Linked DNA regions of Homo sapiens: region 1 is linked to region 2. The links come from fine-mapping of genetic effects on gene expression. A gene starts in region 2. The other region holds a variant in brackets. All regions are shown on one strand. Distances are between the middles of the regions. Region 1 overlaps TMEM89 (transmembrane protein 89). Region 2 holds the start of CCDC71 (coiled-coil domain containing 71).

The links. PIP is the estimated chance that this variant, and not a neighbour inherited with it, causes the effect.
Region 1: its variant is fine-mapped to the expression of CCDC71 in whole blood (TOPMed, PIP above 0.99).

Annotation. Positions count from the first base shown.
Region 1 is chr3:48,611,526-48,621,063 of GRCh38, reverse strand. It overlaps TMEM89 (transmembrane protein 89), which reads left to right. Exons shown (of 2, transcript NM_001008269.3): 2 at 37-305. The coding sequence ends at 222. Among named protein-coding and RNA genes, the nearest start is that of TMEM89, 5.5 kb to the left of the region's middle. RefSeq lists an enhancer at 6,819-7,318. The variant A/G (reference allele first, on the strand shown) is at 3,559.
Region 2 is chr3:49,160,781-49,170,318 of GRCh38, reverse strand. CCDC71 (coiled-coil domain containing 71) reads left to right here and starts at 3,988. Exons shown (of 2, transcript NM_022903.4): 1 at 3,988-4,052; 2 at 6,059-7,784. The coding sequence starts at 6,111. The coding sequence ends at 7,514. RefSeq lists enhancers at 3,707-3,826, 3,847-3,916, 6,462-6,962 and silencers at 4,067-4,146, 4,167-4,226.

The sequences.
Region 1 (9,538 bases), 550 kb after region 2:
ACCATTCTCACTCCTGCCTCTTGGTCCTGGTCTCAGCATCCGCAGGTGACCACTGAGCCCTGCGGACCCTGGAAACGGCGGGCCCCAATCTCAGACCACACCCTGCTCCGTGGGGTCCTGCACATGCTGGATGCCCTCCTGGTCCACATCGAAGGCCACCTACGTCATCTAGCCACCCAGCGGCAAATCCAAATAAAGGGGACTTCCACCCAGAGTGGGTGACCGAACATGTGCCTCTCTTTGCCTGACAGCCTGAGGTCCTGGGCCAGGTCTGCTCTTTCCAGGCCTGTCTGGACCGTGTGTCCCTTTTCAGCTTTTAGAGTCAGCTGACTTGGTGTCCAGGACGGGCGGGCAGGTGGGGCATAGGCTGGCTCACACTGCTCCATTGCCCCCACCAACTGACCTTTCCTCCCTAAGGATCCCTCCTGGAGACACAACTGCTCCTCTGGGCTGGGCGTGGTGGCTCACACCCGTAATCCCAGCGCTTTGAGAGGCCGAGGTGGGAGGATCATTTGAGCTCAAGAGTTCGAGACCAGCCTGGGCAACATGGCAACCCCATCCCTACGAAAAATACAAACAAACAAACAAAAATTAGCTGAGCACACACATAGTGGTGTGTGCCTGTAGTACCAACTACTCAGGAAGCTGAGGTGGGAGGATGGCTTGAGCCTGGCAGGCAGTGGTTGCAGTGAGCCAAGATTGTGCCACTGTACTCCAGCCTGGGTGACAGAGCAAGAACTTGTCTCAAAACAAACAAAAACTGCTCCTCTGGCCTGACCAGTACCTGGGGACTCCCTGTGTGATGGGAGAGGACTTACCAACGGGACAGGCTTGGGTGGCTCAGGAAGGGTTGCCCAGAGGAGCCAACAACCTGGCTGAGCCCTGAGGGGAAATGGGTGTGAGGAAGGGAAATCCAGGTGGCGGTCTGGTTCTGAGCAAAAGCCACGTGCTGTGTTTGGTACTCTCTGCACATGGGCAAGGTGGGCAGTGCACATGATAAAGGGCCTCAAGTGCTGAGTGAGGGTACTGGGCCTCTCCAGTGCACAGGGTGAGCTGAGGAGGGACCTGGTCAGCTGAGAAGAGGGGTGGGGGCAGTGGTGAAGCTGGAACCAGATGCTGAGGATCTCTGATGGGGGACTGAGAGCCCCAAGCCCCCATCACTGTGGAGTCGCACACCCTTTGGCTTCACCCATCCTTGTCACCACCTCAGGGAGGTGACTTTAGTCCTGCCATCAAACAGCAGCTGGCTCTGGCTTCCTTCTTCCCAGGCCCTGCAAGGCCCTCCCTTGAGAGGCCACTGCTCTGTCTCCAATAACAGCCCCTCCCCAGATTCTTGGCTCCAGCAGCCCCAACCTGGGGTCAGGCAGGCCGCCCTAGCTGCCTTTGTTTCTATGGCAGTCTCAAACATGCTCTAGTGCCTCAGCCGCCCTTGCTCTAAGGACCCTGGAAAAGAAGGGACCCTCACTTTAATCCCTTTCTCTTTCTTTTTCCCCTTTTTAAAAATTGTTTCTTTTTGTTTTTTTGACGAACTCAAGCAATCCTCCTGCCTTGGCCTCCCAAGTAGCTGAGACTATAGGCATACATCACCATACCCAGCTAATTAAAAAATATATATATATTTGTAGAGATGGAGTCTATCTTGCCCAGGCTGGCTTCAACTGATCCTCTTGCCTCTGCCTCTCAAAGTGCTGGGATGACAGGTATGAGCCACAGTGCCTGTCCCAGGTTCCTGCTTTAGAAAAAGGCAACAACGTTATGAATTCAAAAATGGAAGTGAATTAAAATAATGAGAAAAGAAATGATGATACTTTTTTTTGAAAACTTTTTTTTTAAATTGACAAATACTACAATACTAAATCCAGAAAAATAACATAACTTGTGGCAACTTCCTGACATATTTCTAATACCTTGGTCCCCTACATGGTCTGGCTTCTTACTCTGAAGGCCTCTACAGAGGACAAGGATTTTGTGATTTTTGGGGGAGATATTTTCCATACAGAGAAAAGATACTTCAGTCTTCCTCCTAACATGGTTGAAATTTGTGTTTTAATTATTGGTAGTTTAGGAAAGTTAAACTTCCTAATCTGTTGTTGACGGTGCCATACAAATGTTCTGGATTGTTGTAAAATTTGAGAAACTGTCATCAGCCTTCTTTCATATAGGAACTATGAAATTTGGAAGAATTTTCCACAGACGAGGTTCTGGCTCCACGCATTTCAAACCTTGTTTTCCTTCCATGGCTCACAGTTTTCCCAGCACTGGGTGCCGTGGGGCATGTCCTTAAGGCAATAGGACTTTGCACTTCTGTCCTTACCCAGCAGGATTTTCCTACGAGCCACATTCCTAGTTTATTCTAGAACAAGACCAATAAACTAACTTTACACAAGGGTGGAGCAAACCACATAAATATGTCCCTCTTAACCTGGTGTAGAAAGTAAAAAAAAAAAAGTTCCTCTTCAAAGTTTCCCTTCTTGTTAAAGAATAAATTATAAGTGTTACAAATAATAGTTTCTTTTAAAGACTAACTTCCTTTAAGCCTCCTCACTTTGTGCTAATAACTCTTTGTTAAGCCCTATCTTATGTAGCTGTTAGATATAAAGAAATAAGTACATTCTGTGTCCTTGTACTTTAACCAAAATATTTGTGCTGGACATGCTCACAGGCACATTCCAGCTTGCAGCCTATGTGCCTTCCTTATTTCGAAATGTTATTACTTTTGGCTGGGTGCAGTGACTCACGCCTGTTATCCCAGCACTTTGGGAGGCTGAGGCGGGCAGATCATGAGGTCAGGAGATCAAGACCATCCTGGTTAACACAGTGAAACCCCGCCTCTACCAAAAATGCAAAAAAGATTAGCCAGGCATGGTGGTGGGTGCCTGTAGTCCCAGCTACTCCGGAAGCTGAGGCAGAAGAATGGCGTGAACCCATGGCAGAGCTTGCAGTGAGCCGAGATCATGCCATTGCACTCCAGCCTGGGCGACAGAGCAAGACTCCATCTCAAAAAAGAAAAAAAAGAAAAAAAGAAATGTTATTACTTTTCTAAGTCCTTCTAAGTCCTTTCGTAAGCAATTTCCTCTTTTCCTTTGTTCTCCCTTGCCTTTACCTATTTAAGAAAATTTTAAGTTATTAGCCGGTCAAGTTTAGCTTAGATTGTGCAGTCCGTCTCCAGCCAATGGAGGCAGGACACAGTAGCAAGGACAAGCTGCATAAAGAATAAAAATTGCTTCCCTCCTTTGTTCAAGTGTGCTCTCACCATTGTTTCATCTGCAAGGAGCACCCTTTCTGCAGAAAGTAAATTTGCCTTGCTGAGAAAACTTTTTGTCTCAATGCTAATTTTTCCTTGCGGTACTGAAGAACAGCATTCTGTTTCTGAATAAACATTTTACTTATAACACCCAGTGTGTCCCTGTGGTAGACTCAGAGATATGCCACACAAAGGCCAGCTGCTGCCAGCCACTCAGGGGACGGCCAGCAGACAGGTCCACTCTGGCTGTGGCAGAGCCCCTATAGCCAGACTTCTTCCTTGCCCAACCCTTTCCCTCCTTCCCTGAGGTGCTC[A/G]TCTCAAGGGACTCTTGTAAATATCTTGTGCTCTGATCTTCCTCTTGGAGTTGGATTCCTAGAGAACCCAACCTGGGACCATCTTCAACCCACCTTCCCTTTGGCTGGACCCCGAAAATGCCACAGCCTCTCTGATGTCCTCCAAGTGAGGGGAAGTGGGCTGGAGTCAAAAGAGAGACAGGGTCTCACTATGTTGCCCTGGTCTCAAACTCCTGAACTCAAATGACTCTCCCACCTCAGCCTCCCAAAGTTCTGAGATCATAGGCATGAGCCACTGCACCTGGCTGAAAAAGAGATTGTGATGGGAAGTATCCCTCAGGAAGCCCAGGCATTGGAATTATTAATCAAAAACAATAAATCAACTGTCTTAGTATGTTCAATGAACTAAGGGAAGCCATGGACAAAGAACTAAAGGAAATTAGGAAAATTATGTCTGAACATAAAGAATACTAATAAAGAGGGCCGGGCGCGGTGGCTCATGCCTGTAATCCCAGCACTTTGGGAGGCCTAGGTGGGTGGATCACGAGGTCAGGAGATCAAGACCATCCTGGCTAACACAGTGAAACCCCATCTCTACTAAAAATACAAAAAATTAGCCGGGCACAGTGGTGGGCACCTGTAGTCCCAGCTACTCGGGAGGCTGAGGCAGGAGAATGGCATGAACTGGGGAGGCAGAGCTTGCAGCGAGCCAAGAGTGCCACTGCACTGTGGCCTGGGTGAAAGAGCAAGACTCTGTCTCAAAAAAAAAAAAAAAAAAAAAATTAATACAGAGAAAAATTTTAAAGGGACCAAACAAATTCTGAACCTGAAAGCAAATCATTTGTCAGTAATCTCATTAAATATAAATAGATTAAACTCTCCTATTAATAAATGAATTTTCAGATTGGTTTTTTAAAAAAGGTTAATCTATATGTTGTCTATCAGAGACTCACTTCAGATATAAGAACATAAAAACACCAGAAGTAAAAGGATGGAAGAAATATTTTATGGCCTGGCATGGTGGCTTACACCTGTAATCCCAGCACTTTGGGAGGCTGAGGCAGGTGGATTGCTTAAAGAGTTTGAGACCAGCCTGGGCAACAAGGCAAAACCCCATTTCTACAAAAAACACAAAAAATTAGCTGGGCATGGTGGTGTGCACCTTTAGTCCCAGCTACCCCGGAGGCTGAGGTGGGAGGATCACCTGATCTCAGGAAGGTCAAAGCTGCAGTGAGTCATGATCACACCACTGCACTCTAGCCTGGGGCAACAGAGTGAGACTCTGTTTCAAGAAAGAAAAAAAGAAAAAGAAAAAGAAAAAAAAATACTTCATGCAAATAGCAACCAGAAGAGAGTCAAGGTGGCTTTATTATTGTCAGGTATAGTAGCCTCTAAATCAAAAAGATTACAAGAGACAAAGAAGGACGTTATCTATTGATAAAAATTGCTTTTTTTTTTTGAGACGGAGTCTCACTTTGTCGCCTAGGCAGGAGTGCAGTGGCGCAATCTCGGCTCACTGCAACCTCTGCCTCCTGGGTTCATGCCATTCTCCAGCCTCGGCTTCCTGAGTAGCCGGGACTACAGGTGTCTGCCACCATACCCAGCTAATTTTTTTTGTACTTTTTTTTTTTTTTTTTTTTTTTTGAGACGGAGTCTCGCTCTGTCGCCCAGGCTGGAGTGCAGTGGCGGGATCTCGGCTCACTGCAAGCTCTGCCTCCCGGGTTCACGCCATTCTCCTGCCTCAGCCTCCCAAGTAGCTGGGACTACAGGCGCCCGCCACTACGCCCGGCTAATTTTTTGTATTTTTAGTAGAGACGGGGTTTCACCGTTTTAGCCGGGATGGTCTCGATCTCCTGACCTCGTGATCCGCCCGCCTCGGCCTCCCAAAGTGCTGGGATTACAGGCGTGAGCCACCGCGCCCGGCATTTTTTTTGTATTTTTAGTAGAGACGGGGTTTCACTGTGTTAGCCAGGATGGTCTCTGTCTCCTGACCTCGTGATCTTCCTGCCTTGGCCTCCCAAAGTGCTGGGATTACAGGCGTAAGCCACTGCGCCCAGCCTTTTTTTTTTTTTGAGACAGAGTTTCGCTCTTGTTGCCCAGGCTGGAGTGCAATGGCATGATCTTGGCTCACCACAGCCTCTGCCTCCCGGGTTCAAGCAATTCTCCTGCCTCAGCCTCCTGAGTAGCTGGGATTACAGGCATGCGCCACCATGCCCTACTAATTTTGTATTTTTAGTAGAGACGGGGTTTATCCATGTTGGTCAGGCTGGTCTTGAACTCCTGACCTGAGGTGATCCACCCACCTAATAAAAGTTTCAAAACAAGGCAATATGACAATTAGAAACATTTATGTGCCTAACGGAGCCCCAAAAATAATGAAACAAAAATTATCAGAATTGAAAGTAGTCAGCTCTACAATTATAGTTCATATTTCAACCCCCCACTTTCAATAATGAATAGAACAGGCAGGCGTGGTGGCTCACGCCTGTAATCCCAGGACTTTGGGAGGCTGAGGTGGGCGGATCACCTGAGGTCAGGAGTTCGAGACCAGCCTGGTCAAGATGGTGAAACCTTGTCTCTACTAAAAATACAAAAACTATCTGTGCATGGAGACAGGCCCCTGTAATCCCAGCTACTTGGGAGGCTGAGGCATGAGACTTGCTTGAACCAGGAGGTGGAGGTTGCAGTGAGCCTAGATCACACCACTGCACTCCATCCAACCTGAGCAACAAGAGCAAACTCCGTCTCAAAAAAAAAAAAAAAAAAAAAGCTGCGTGCAGTGGCTCATGCCTGTAATCCCAGCACTTTGTGAGACCAAGGCAGGAGAATCACTTGAGCCCAGGAGTTCGAGACCAAGCTGGGTAATGTGGCAAAATCCCATCTCTATTTAAAAAAATTAAAAGTAAATTTAAAAAATAAAAAGAAACATCTAGAAGAATAAATAGGTGAATGTATCAAACAGAGTAAGAAGGGTAAGTTGAGTGCCAGAGCCCTCCCTACAGAACACAGCCTGCATGGACCTGGTACAAGTTTGAGAATCTATGGGATGATAGAGGGAACAACAGAGATGGGTAGGGAAACAGGGCCTCATCAAGAAACGGTGTTACAAAATTTAGTTTGCCTTTTAGGGGGAGAGAGGATATTTTGACCTTACCTCACTCTATATACCAAGTAAATTCCAGAGAATCAATGAGTCACCAAACACTGTTGCAAAATTATTGCAATGATCACTGCTTGCACTTAACCTTTTAGTAATATTTCCTGTTTTGACCAACCCCTTGAAACGCATCGTTCCCAACCAGCATCAGACTTCCTAGTTGTCTCCTACTTCAATGGCCTTCCCTTCTTAGCCCAGGGTAGCAGTGGGTATAGGTAGGGAGGCTAGGTGACTGGGTTTAGGAATATTTCATTTGGGAGGCTGAGGTGGGAGGATCACTTGAGCCTAGGAGTTCAAGACCAGACTGGGGAATATAGTGAGACCCCATCTCTAGAAAAATGTTTTTAAAAATTAGCTGGGTGTGATGGTGCATGCCTATATAGTTCCAGCTACTCAGGAGGCTGGAGTGGGAAGATGGCTTGAGCTGGAAGGTTGAGGCTGCAGTGAGCCATGATCACACCACTGCATTCCAGCCTGAGTGACAGAAAGCCAGACCCTCTCAAAAAAAAAAAAGAAAGAGAGAGAAAGGAAGGGAGGAAGGAAGGAAGGAAAGGAAGGAGGGAGGGAAGGAAGGAAGGAAGGAAAGGAAGCAGGCAGGCCGGGTGCGGTGGCTCACACCTGTAATCCCAGCACTTTGGGAGGCCAAGGTGGGTGGATCACCTGAGGTTGGGAGTTTGAGACCAGCCTGACTAACATGGAGAAACCCCATCTCTACTAAAAATACAAAATTAGCTAGGCGTGATGGCACATGCCTGTAGTCCCAGCTACTCGGGAGACTGAGGCATGAGCATCGCTTGAACCCGGGAGGCAGAGGTTGCTGATAAGATTGCGCCATTGCACTCCAACCTGGGCAACAAGAGCGAAACTCGGTCTCAAAAATAAAAAAGGTCGGGCGTGGTAGCTCATGCCTGTAATCCCAGCACTTTGGCAGATCACGAGGTCAAGAGATCGAGACCATCCTGGCCAACATGGTGAAATCCCATCTCTACTAAAACTACAAAAATTAGCTGGGTGTGGTGGCACATGCCTTAGTCCCAGCTACTTGGGAGCCTGAGGCAGGAGAATCGCTTGAACCCAGGAGGCGGATGTTGCAGTGAGCCAAGATCATGCCACTGCACTCCAGCCTGGCAACAGAGCGAGACTCCATCTCAAAAAAAAAAAAAAAAGAGATCACGTCCAGGGGCGGTGGCTCACATCTGTAGTCCCAGCACTTTGGGAGGCCAAGGCAGGAGGCTCACTTGAGCCTGGAGTTTGAGACCAGCCTGGGCCACATAGTGAAATCCTGTCTCTACAAAAAATATAAAAGTTAGCTGGGTATGATGGTGTGCACCTGTGTTCCCAGCTACTCAGGAGCCTGAGGTAGAAGGATCACTTGAGCCAGGGCATGGTGGCGTGTGGCGTCCCAGCTACTTGGAAGGCTGAGGCAGGAGAATTGCTTGAATCCAGGAGGCTGAGGTTGCAGTGAGCCAAGATCACGCCACTGCACTTCAGCCTGGGTGACAGAATGAGACTCTGTCAAAAATTAGCGATGTTGGCATGTGCCTGCAGTTCCAGCTACTCGGGAGGCCGAGGCAGGAGAATTGCTTGAACCTGGGAGATGGAGGTTGCAGTGAGCAGAGATCCTGCCACTGCACTCCAGCCTGGGTGACAGAATGAGACTCTGTCTCAAAAAAGAAAGAAAAAAATAGAGATCATAAGACTGAGAGAATGAACCCTTTGTAGCAATAAGATACCAAAGTATAAACAAGACATTAAGGCCATGCCAGGCAAGAGTTAAGCCGTTCACCAAAGAATAAACTATGTTCTAACTGCTGCAAGGTTTTTCTTTTTCTCCAGCAGCTAAACAAGCACTGGCCTTGAGATAAGCAATATAGAAACAATTGCAGTTCATCCATCACCAGACACTGACCCCACAAGCCATAACTATAGCTTTGATTGCACAAGAGATGGATTTTGGTGACTTTTTCCTAATAAGAGACCACTGACCAGGGACTGGCTTCAGTTGGTTTATGGAACCTGTGCACTGAGTGCTTTTGTATCCTTCATTTTGACATATGGTGCTAATTGTATTTCTTTTCTTTTTTTTTTTTTTTTTTGAGATGGAGTCTCCCTCTGTAGCCCAGGCTGGAGTGCAGTGGTGCGATCTTGGCTCACTGCAACCTCCGCTTCCCGGTTTCAAGTGATTCTCCTTCCTCACCCTCCTGAGTAGCTGGGACTACAGGCATACGCCACCACGCCCAGCTAATTTTTGTATTTTTAGTAGAGACGGGGTTTTACTGTGTTGGCCAGGATGGTCTTGATCTTCTGACCTCGTGAGCCACCCACCTCGGCTTCCCAAAGTGCTGAGATTATAGGCGTGAGCCACCGCACCCGGCCTGTAATGTATTTCAATGTTAAGTCTCCACCCCAAAGTGAACATGGGTCATATACAACACACATGTTTATTCAGTATACTTGCATTAGGACCCCCTTCATGAGTATCTATAGCTCTTCCTGTAACCTGTTGAATATGGTATTTTTTGTTTTTGTTTTTTCTTTTTTGAGACAGAGTCTCGCTCTGTCACCCAGGCTGGAGTGCAGTGGCGCGATCTCGGCTCACTGCAACCTCCGCCTCCCAGGTTCAAGCGATTCTTCTGCCTCAGCTTCCCGAGTAGCTGGGATTATAGGCACATGCCATCATGCCTGGCAGATTTTTTGTATTTTTAGTAGAGACGGGGTTTCACCATGTTAGCCAGGATGGTCTCAATCTCCTGACCTTGTGATCCGCCCACCTCGGCCTCCCAAAGTTTGGGATTACAGGTGTGAGCCACCGTGCCCGGCCGAATATGTATGTTTAGCCAAGCC
Region 2 (9,538 bases):
CTGGCCTTCCCAGAAGTCTATGGGTAGACCCTCCCGCATGACCGGAGAAGAGAGCCTTTGCTCTTTTCAGGGACTGTCAGTTGGATTCAGTCGGCCTGCACAGAAATGGTGGTGCCAAGGCTGGTTACAGACTGCACAGACCCTGACTTGAAGGCCTCAATCCTCCTTGTCCCACTTCACCTTGGACTTGCTCCTCAGTGCCCTCACTTGGGGCACTGTTTCCACCCTCTTGTGATTGCCAATAGGCTTCCAAGAGGCTCACACTGCTCTGCAGCCCCCTTCACATTTGCTACTGTTCCCTTTCCAAGCTCCCTCCTCCTCCTTTCCAGCAATTAAACACTTACAAGCCACTTGCCTTTAGATACCTCCCAACACCCCAAGTCTCTCTAGTCTCCCCTTCCTCCACTCCAGTCAAACTCTTGAAGCCATCTGTCCTCACAGGCTCCACCTCCTTGTTACTTGTCACCTCAATGTGCTGCCACTCCTCCCCAAAAATTGTTCTTGGAAAAGTCATCATGAAATACCATATAGCTAAAACTATATGTGCCTGTGGTCCTTAACTAAATCTTGCTAGCATCTTCAAAGTTTTGCCCCTTGTGACCTCAACTCCCTCCTGCTGTTTGTCCTGCCTCTGAGAATCTTTATTTTTTATCTATTTATTTTTTTTTTGAGACGGAGTCTTGCTCTGTCACTCAGGCTGGAGTGCAGTGGTGCCATCTCCACTCACTGCAAGCTCCGCCTCCCAGGTTCATGCCATTCTCCTGTCTAAGCCTCCCGAGTAGCTGGGACTACAGGGGCCCGCCACCATGCCCGGCTAATTTTTTTTTTTTTGTATTTCTAGTAGAGATGGAGTTTCACCGTGTTAGCCAGGATGGTCTCGATCTCCTGACCTCGTGATCCGCCCACCTCAGCCTCCCAAAGTGCTGGGATTACAGGCATGAGCCACCGCGCCCAGCCCACCTCTCAAAATCTTTTTTTTGAAACGGAGTTTCACTCTTGTTGCCCAGGCTAGGGTGCAGTGGCGTGATCTCAGCTTACTGCCACCTCCGCCTTCCGGTGGTTTCAAATGATTCTCCTGCCTCAGCCTCCCGAGTAGCTGGGACTACAGGCACGTGCCACCATGCCCAGCTAATTTTTTGTATTTTTAGTAGACATGGGGTTTCACCATGTTGGCCAGGATGGTCTCCATCTCTTGACTGCGGGATCCGTCCGCCTTGGCCTCCCAAAGTGCTGGAATTACAGGCATGAGTCACCGCGCCTGGCCTAGAATCTTTTGCAGGCTCTGCTTCTTCTCCATCACCAGGAATTGGCTCCTCAAGATTCAACCCTGGCTTTTCTCCCTGGCACACATATTTCCTCTTGGGGCAGTCCCTCCCAGGCCACTGCCTTCATTCACATCTAAAGCTCCATCACATCTCTCTGCTCAGATAGAGCTGGGTCCAGGATCCACTGAGAACCATATAAGGCTGGAGGGGCAGGTGGCTCACACGTGTAATACTAGCACTTTGGGAGGCTGAGGTGGGCAGATCACCTGAGGTCAGGAGTTCAAGACCAGCCTGGCCAACATGGTGAAACCCCAGCTTGACTAAAAATACAAAAAATTGGCCAGGCACAGTGGCTCACGCCTGTAATCCCAGCACTTTGGGAGGCCAAGGTGGGTGGATCATTTGAGGTCAGGAGCTTGAGACCAGCCTGGCCAACATGGTGAAACCCCACCTCTACTAAAAATACAAAAATTAGCCAGGTGTGATGGCAGGCGCCTGTAGTCCCAGCTACTCTGGAGGCTGAGGTAGGAGAATTGCTTGAACCTGGGAGGCAGAGGTTGCAGTGAGCTGAGATCACGCCACTGCACTCCAGCCTGGGCAACAAAGGAGACTGTCTCAAAAAAAAAAAAAAAAAAAAAAAAAAGGAAGAAGAAGGAAAAAAAGAACCATATAAGATGCCAAATGGAAAGCAAAGATTGGGTCCTGGGATCACCCTGTGTTCTCTCCCATCTCATCCTGTCTGGTCCCAGTTGTGCCTGTAGGCTCAGCAGCCACTAGAGTCCAGGTCAAGTCAGACTGCACTCTGATGAGCGCTCCCAAAGAGTTCCATCTAGGGCATACTGGGCACCAGGAGGCAAAAAGTTCGGCCCTACCACCCCCAAAGGGAGCTAGGTACCCCCATGATCCTTATCCCTAATCTCTATCATTTCCCCAGTTCTCATGTCTGGAAGGGACACAGCACAGCCGGAGGATGGACCTACCCTTCCTGGTTTTCCATTTGCCCTAACTTCTGAGCTGAACATCACCAGAGAGGGGTCTGGATATAACTGTACTGTTGCTATCCCTGGAGGATGGGCTCTGGCTCTCCATGGAAGGGGTTTCTGTTTGCACAGCCATGGCCCACCTGCACACAGGAGGCCAACACTGCCGGCTTTGGAGAAGCTGCAGAAGGTAACTGGTTGAATCGGTCCTGAATAAGTGAACAGTCAATCTTCAACCATGGACGGCCAGAGACTGGACTCACCCACAGCTGGGGACTGGGGGCACCAAGGTGGGGCTTCCTGACTGCACCCCATGAGATCCTGGCCCCTGGGACCCTACTCTTGCTTTCTCTCCACCAGGAAAAAAAGGCTAGAAGCACTGACCCCAGAGGAACAGGAGATTTTGCAGTTCCTGCTAGATACCTTGGCTATACTTAAAAGCAGCGAGGACCTCACCATTAGTGCTGAGGCCCTGGGAAGCTAAGAGGCACCAGATGAGGCCTATGGCACTGCTGGGTGGACTAGGCACTTGTCTTTAGGAGTGCCTGGACCCCTCTGTATAAGCAGGGAAAATACAGAGCAACCAGAGGATCCTGGTTGGAAAAAGGGCAGGAAAAAGGGCTAGTACCCAGTCCCTAAATGAAGCATCCCGCCACCCTCCTGTGATTGCCAATAGGCTTCCACCTGACCCCAACTACCAAATAAGGCACCACTGCAAGGGTCAGAGTCCAAGAGTTGTGGCAATATTTCTGCCTCCTGGCTCAGGCTCTGACCCTAGTGCAAATGCCCCCACTACCTCATCCATGAAACCAGGGCTCCCAGGATGGTTCCCAACCTGGACTTGCAAACCTCTGACTAATGGGACCTTTGGTCAGAGCTGTGGAGACCACTCTGACCTCTCACTGAAGTCACAGACCCCTAGGGTTGATTTTGACCTGTGTCCTATAACCACCACCCCGTACTAGCCCAAGAGCATGGATAAAAAGACTGAGGTCCCAGACTCCTAGGCAAAAGGAAAGGGGTTCTGGGCAGTGTTAAGACTGGAAGCAGGACTTCCTTCCATTGAGGGGCTGAGGCTGGGCCAGTGACTATACCTGCCCCCACCTGCCTGAGCAAGTATACTCAGGCCCACAGTGGTATACTGGAGCCCCCAGACTCCATGTGCGCTTGGGCTTGCGTGCACCACTTGTGATCACGTGCACACCAGCCTTTCATGCCATGTGCCACAGGCCCTATTCTCAGGAAGAGAGGAAGGCCTGCTGTCCTCGGAGAAGATACCCTTACTGCAAAACAAAGGAGATCACCTGAGACTCCCTGTCAGGAGGCACTCCTCTTTCACCCTCTGGTCAGGTGTCTGGGACTGAAGTGGGCATTGTCAGTGGCTAAAGATAGATCAGAGGGTGGAAGATGGCCTGAACCTTGTCAGGAGCCCCTCCCAGATGTCAATGCACCACTAGCTCCCCTCAGAAAAGGTGTCAGATGACCCCTAATCCAGTCTTGGCCGGGCTCTAGTGAGTCCTTGCCTGGGGCCGCGTCAGAGGGCACCTCTGTTCTTCAGACTTCTGCACAGGGCCGAACGGGTTTGGAGCAGTCACCGCGGCCACCACCTCCAGGCAGTCCTCCTTGGTACCCAATCTGCTCCGCCCCCAGACTTTGTGGGGAAATGGGGTCTCAGGGGTCAAGGGTCGGTAGGGCGGGCTGGGTCCCGGAAGCGGAAGCGCAGTGCACTTCCGGCGCGCAGCGGGCGGCCATGTTGGAGCAGCGGAGGCGGCGCAGAGGCGCGTCTTGGGTCCCCGCGGCGGCGCCGGTAGGTTGGAGCCGCGGGCCTAGCCGCGCCGCGGAGGGGCGGCCCGCGAGGCGGCAGGGCGGACGGGCAAGCGGCCAACTCTTCCCGGACCCGCGTCCTCCGCCGGCCTGGCCGAGACCCCCCACCCCACCCCCACCCCGCGCCCAGCGACCCCACCCTGGGGCTGTGCGGTCCCGGTAGGGCTAGCACCGTTCACCCTGTACATTTCGCTGCCTCAGTGACCCCCGCCTCACGGCTTGGGCCCTAAGGACGTGCATTCCCAGCCTGAGGGCCCCGATCTGCCCCCTCCCCCGGTCTGCCTGTGTGGCGCCTCTCTCACGCCCTATCTTCCGTCAACTTCTCCTGCCTTCCCCGGGGGCACGTGTGAAGGGAAGTCGGAGGCCGGGCAGGAGCCTCTGTTTCCGAAGCTTCTCGAAAGCCCAGAAAACCCCTCCCAAGAGCCCAGCCTAACCTGGGTGGAAGAGCCCCCAGGTCACCCCAAATATTTGCGCTGGGGCGCGTGTGAGGGTGGGAAATAGGTCCCTCTCTCTTCTACAGTTCACAGCTCTGGGAACTACATCCCTTCAAAAAACATTAATAAAGAACTAAAGTCATGTGCAAGGATTGTGCTTGGAGAACGGTCTCTGGGGAGGGGAAGTGCCCAAGACACCTGAGGATCCAAGAATGTTTCCAAACAAAGAGCCCTAGGGCATTTCCTCCAGGGTATTCTGAAGACTTCATCTGCTGCATTAGAGCGGTGGGAAGAAACTACACAGACGGGCCTCATGGCCCGAGGGACCTGCCTGATCCTGGCTGATCTTTTAATGCTCTGGTGCAGCTGGGGAGCTGCCTCTTGCTTCTGGGAACCCTCAGTGTTGGGTTGGGTATTAGATGTTAGTTATGATTGATGTCCACAGCTTCTTTAAAGAAGTCTGGGAGTAGTTAGGTGTTCTCAGTCACCTCCATCTGGGCTGTACTGAGGTCTGTGGCCCTCCAAGTCTTAGGTAGGACAGTGCATACCGCTAATGTCCCCTTGACTCACCATCCTACTTGCAGCCTTTGGCTCCCATTGTCCTTAAACTTTGGGATCTTGGTCTGGCTTCCTGGTCCCTGGTCTGCCTGGTTGCCTAGAGAGATGTCATTGGCACCTGCTACTCATCAGCTTTTTAGTTTCTGTTGAAGAAAAGTCCGACTCTTGATTAGGTCTCCATGCCTCTGGAGCTAGAAAATGGGTTGCTGAGTACCCTGTCTAGAGACTGAAAACAGAACTTCTGGTGGGCAGGGAGATTCCCCCACCCCACTCCAGCTCCACACATGAACAGCAGCAGCTGGAGAAACAGATGGGCATGGACAGTGGGTGTAAGTCTGGGCCCTTTGGCTAACATTCAGGGTTCTTTGTTGCTCTATCCTCGCCTGTTTTTTCACCTAGATCCCAGATCCCACACCAAGTATGCCTTAACCCTTTCTCACTTTGGAGCCATTGCATTAGCTATTCCCCTTTTTGTTCCATTTCCATCTAATCATTTTTCATTCATCACTCATATCCTAGCTAGGTGTTGTCTCTCCCAGGAATCCTTTCCTGACCCATTGGCAAACTGAGCTGAATGCCAGCATTCACTCCCAAGAATCTTAACAGTGTCTTTTTCTGGCCTTCTAACCTAGGTTCCTTGAGGACAGGGATATTGCCTGTATTCCCAGAGCTGAGTAATTCTAGGTTTCTGGCTTCAGAAAATACAGAGTTGAATTAAAATGTACCAGGCTCAAATCTTTTCAGGGACCCGGCAGCAGGTTGGATGGCTCTGAGGTATTTCTGAGCATGTATCTTGAAGAAACTCCCTGATCCTTAGCCTCTCCTCCCACCCCAGCATGGTAGAGGGTCAGGAGACCAGGGTTTTACACCAGGAAGTGTCTCACTCTGGCCAGATTCCTCAGTGTCATGGAGATTGGGGCACTGATTGACTTGTCTATGTGTTCTGGCCCCTTGTCTTAGTGCCATTCTTATTGACTCTTTTCCTCTTGTCTTGGAGGTGCCAAGCGCTGGTTTGCGGATACCCAGGCAGATCTGCAGTGCCTAATGCCATGAGTGTGGTGGTTCAGCATGTGGAGGAAAAAGCTGTGCACTCCTGGTCGCGCATCTCCACGGCAGGGAAGAAGGCCCTGGAAGAGGCACTGCTTGTCTTTAACCCAATGAGCCAGGATCTCAGTGCCACAGAGGCCCAGCTTGTGGCCTTCCTGCAGGGCCTGCGAGATGATGGCTTCCAACCTACCATCCTGCGCAGTGGTGATGTCTATGGCTATAGTTCATGCACAGCTAATCCCCCAAGCCAGACGAAACTGCAAGCTCGTGCCCCTAACCCAACTGCCACATCACCTCCAGCCAGTGCTCCCCGAACTGCCATGCGGTTGCCTGCAGGTCGGGCCACACTGCTTCCCATGCCGCTATCTGGCAGACTGGCCAAAGCATCCACACCAGCCCTTGCCAAGCATGCTACCACCAACCTGCTGCTGAGCTCTCTGAAGCAATCAAGTGCCAGCCATGCCCGGGGTGCAGCAGTGGGCTTCCCCACCCACCTTTATCCAGGTGTCTACCCTGCCATGCGGCTCTCTGTTGTCCTTGAGGCCCTGGTTCCACTTAAGACTCCCATGCCCTGCTTGGGTGCCAAGCACAAGGCACAGTCACTGCAGCTCTCACTTGCAGACTCTCCTCTGAAACTGCGGAAAAGTTCAGGGAAGGGTCCGGGGAACCCTCGGCCCAAAGCTCCCAGAAAAACCACAAGCAAGGGCCCCAAGTGTCTGACTCGCAAAGGCCCTGGGGCTGGACCCCGACGAGGCTCTGGGCACCAGAGCAAAACCAACAGAGCCACTGGGTCCCCCAGTGTCCGGCGAATGAAAGGGGGCTCTGCCCTGGGCACCAAAACAGCCCAGGCCAAGGTAGCTCGAACACTGGCCAAAGCTGCTCGTGCCCAAGCCAAGGTGGCTCGAACACAGGCCAAGGCTGCTAAGGCCCGGGCCAAGGCCAAGGCAGCACAGGTCAAGGCTAAGGCCAAAGCTAAGGCAGCACAGGTCAAGGCCAAGGCCAAAGTCATGGCAGCATGGGCCAAGGCCAAGGCTAAAGCCAAGGCAGTACGGGCCAAGGCCAAGGTGGCTCGGACCCAGCCCAGGGGCAGAGGCAGGCCAAAGGGATCTGCTAAGGCCAGAACTACAAGGAAGGGCCAGAAAAACCGCCCTGAGACTGTTGGGCAGAAGAGGAAAAGGGCTGAGGAGGCAAAAGATCTTCCTCCCAAGAAGAGAACACGGCTTGGGCCCCGATCTCCTAAGGCATGGCTAGGGCCTGGAACAGCAAAGCTGCTGAAGTTCCGTGCCATAAAGGTAGATAGGCGGTCCTCGGATGATGAGGTGCGGCAGCGGGCTCAGCGGATCCTCCGCGTGAACCTGTCACCTGTAATACGGCTCCAGCCATTGCTGCCATATTCAGCAGTCTGATTCCTTCACACGGCAATGTTTGGGGAAACTAAGCCCAGCTGTCTGTGTGGCTAGTGGCACAGTGTGCTATGTCCGTGGACTCCACAATCTTGAGGACTCCCGGTGCCTCTCTAGGGCCCTGGTGACCACCAGCCTCCTTTCAGAAACCAGAGTGGGTGGGGTACGGTGGGGTGGGTGGGCGGGAGGGGTGTTTTCATGGCGCGATGCACTGTGACTTGTTATTCAAGTTGTATGTCTACTGTTCCATCTATCACGTTTTATACCTTTCCACCTTCCAGTCTCCCTGCCCACCCTCCATGGTCTTCTGTGTGTGTGTGGCTGCTGGCAGGCCAGCTTGAAGATATAGGGAAAGTGGTCCCAGAAATAGGCCTGCCTATTTCCGGGGGTTGTGGGAGGAGGCAGCTCCTGGGCCCCTTTGGAGAGATGAGGGGAAATTGGCTTCTGTGGTTGTCTGAGAGGCATCCCCTGAATGCAGAAGCAGAGCCACTGTGAAGTAAGACACTTCCCTTTGAGGCTGCTCTGGTTTGTGATCCAGACAGGCCCCATTCAGGACAGTAGGCCCCATGCAGGACAGTAGGTTCCATGGGGAACCTTGCAGCTAGTGGGTTTTTAGGTCCTGGAATGGAGCCTTTGTGGTACTTCCCTAGGGACCAAACAGACAGCCTGGCTAAAATCTTGGGGCTTAGCCTGGGCTTTTCTGGTGTGGGTCCAGGCCCAAAGGGGTTGAGGTGCTTCTCCCCACTCTGCTCTCGTGGCAGAGAGTAACTATCCTCAACTTCGATTGGTGGCAAGGTACTGGTGGTTGAGTCAGGACCACAGAGCTTGCCCTCAGTGACCAAATAATTTTCTCCTTGGTTGGGTGAGGTTTTCCATGACTGCCTCATCAGCAGTGCTTTCTGTATGAATCTTAAGTGCTCTCTCTACTCCCAGGTCCAGCCTCATCATGCCCTCCAACATGGTCCATATGTTAAAATACATTGTCACCCTTCCTGCTTTAGAGAGGGGGCTGGGCCCTGGGACCTGAAGGAGGTAACTGTCCTGCCCATCTGTAGTCCATCACTGGCTGCCCAGGCTGAATGGCAGTGCCTGGGGTTGGCAGGGAGGGGCACACATTCCCCCTCCCTGGGGTAGGGGCATCATTTCAGTGAGAATCAGATGTTTTCTGTTTCTGGGTTTGGGCCCCACAAGCTGCCAGCTGCCCTGGGTGGTGGACCTGTGGAGAAGCTCTGTGCTTCTTGGTGCCCTCCTGCCCCTTCTGCATCTTGTGGCATGCTTCCCCTGGGTGTGTCCTCCCTTGGTTTCCCAAGCTCTGGGACCTTGCTCCCAGCTGTGCTGTCGCCCCACTACCTTACATGCTACTTGCCTCTGACAACTCTTTCATTCATGATGTGAATATGGGGAATGACCTGAGAGCCACACTCAGCTCCTCAAGGGCAGCCCAGCTTGGGGCTCACGCCTGTAATCCCAGCACTTTGGGAGTCCAAGGCAGGTGGGTCAGTTGAGGTCAGGAGTTTGAGACCAGCCTGGCCAACATGGTGAAATCTCATCTGTACTAAAAATACAAAACAGCCAGGTGTGGTGGCACACACCTAAAGTCCCAGCTACTTGGGAGGTTGAGGCTGGAAGATCACTTGAACCTGGGAAGCAGAGTTTGCAGTGAGCCAAGATCTCGCCACTGCACTCCAGGCTGGGCGACAGAGTGAGACTCTGTCTCAAAAAAAAAAAAAAAAAAAAAAAAAAAGAAAAGAAAAAAAGAAATCAAGGTTCCCTGTGGGGTGGGGTGGAGAGGGGTGGGTATTCCTAGGATCTCTAGTCAGATGCTGCCCCTCCTAGTCCAGGCTCCTAGAACAGTTTCCCAGGGAGTGCCAGATATCCCTTCCCGATCTGGCTGCATCAGCATCCTGGTTGTTGGCTGGGGCCAGAGCCAGAGCCTTCGAACTTCATCCAGTAGGCCCTGAGCCCTACTTCATTGGCAGTCACCTGCAGGTGAGGGCTCTGGAGGCTGGTTTCTTTGGGTGTCCTGG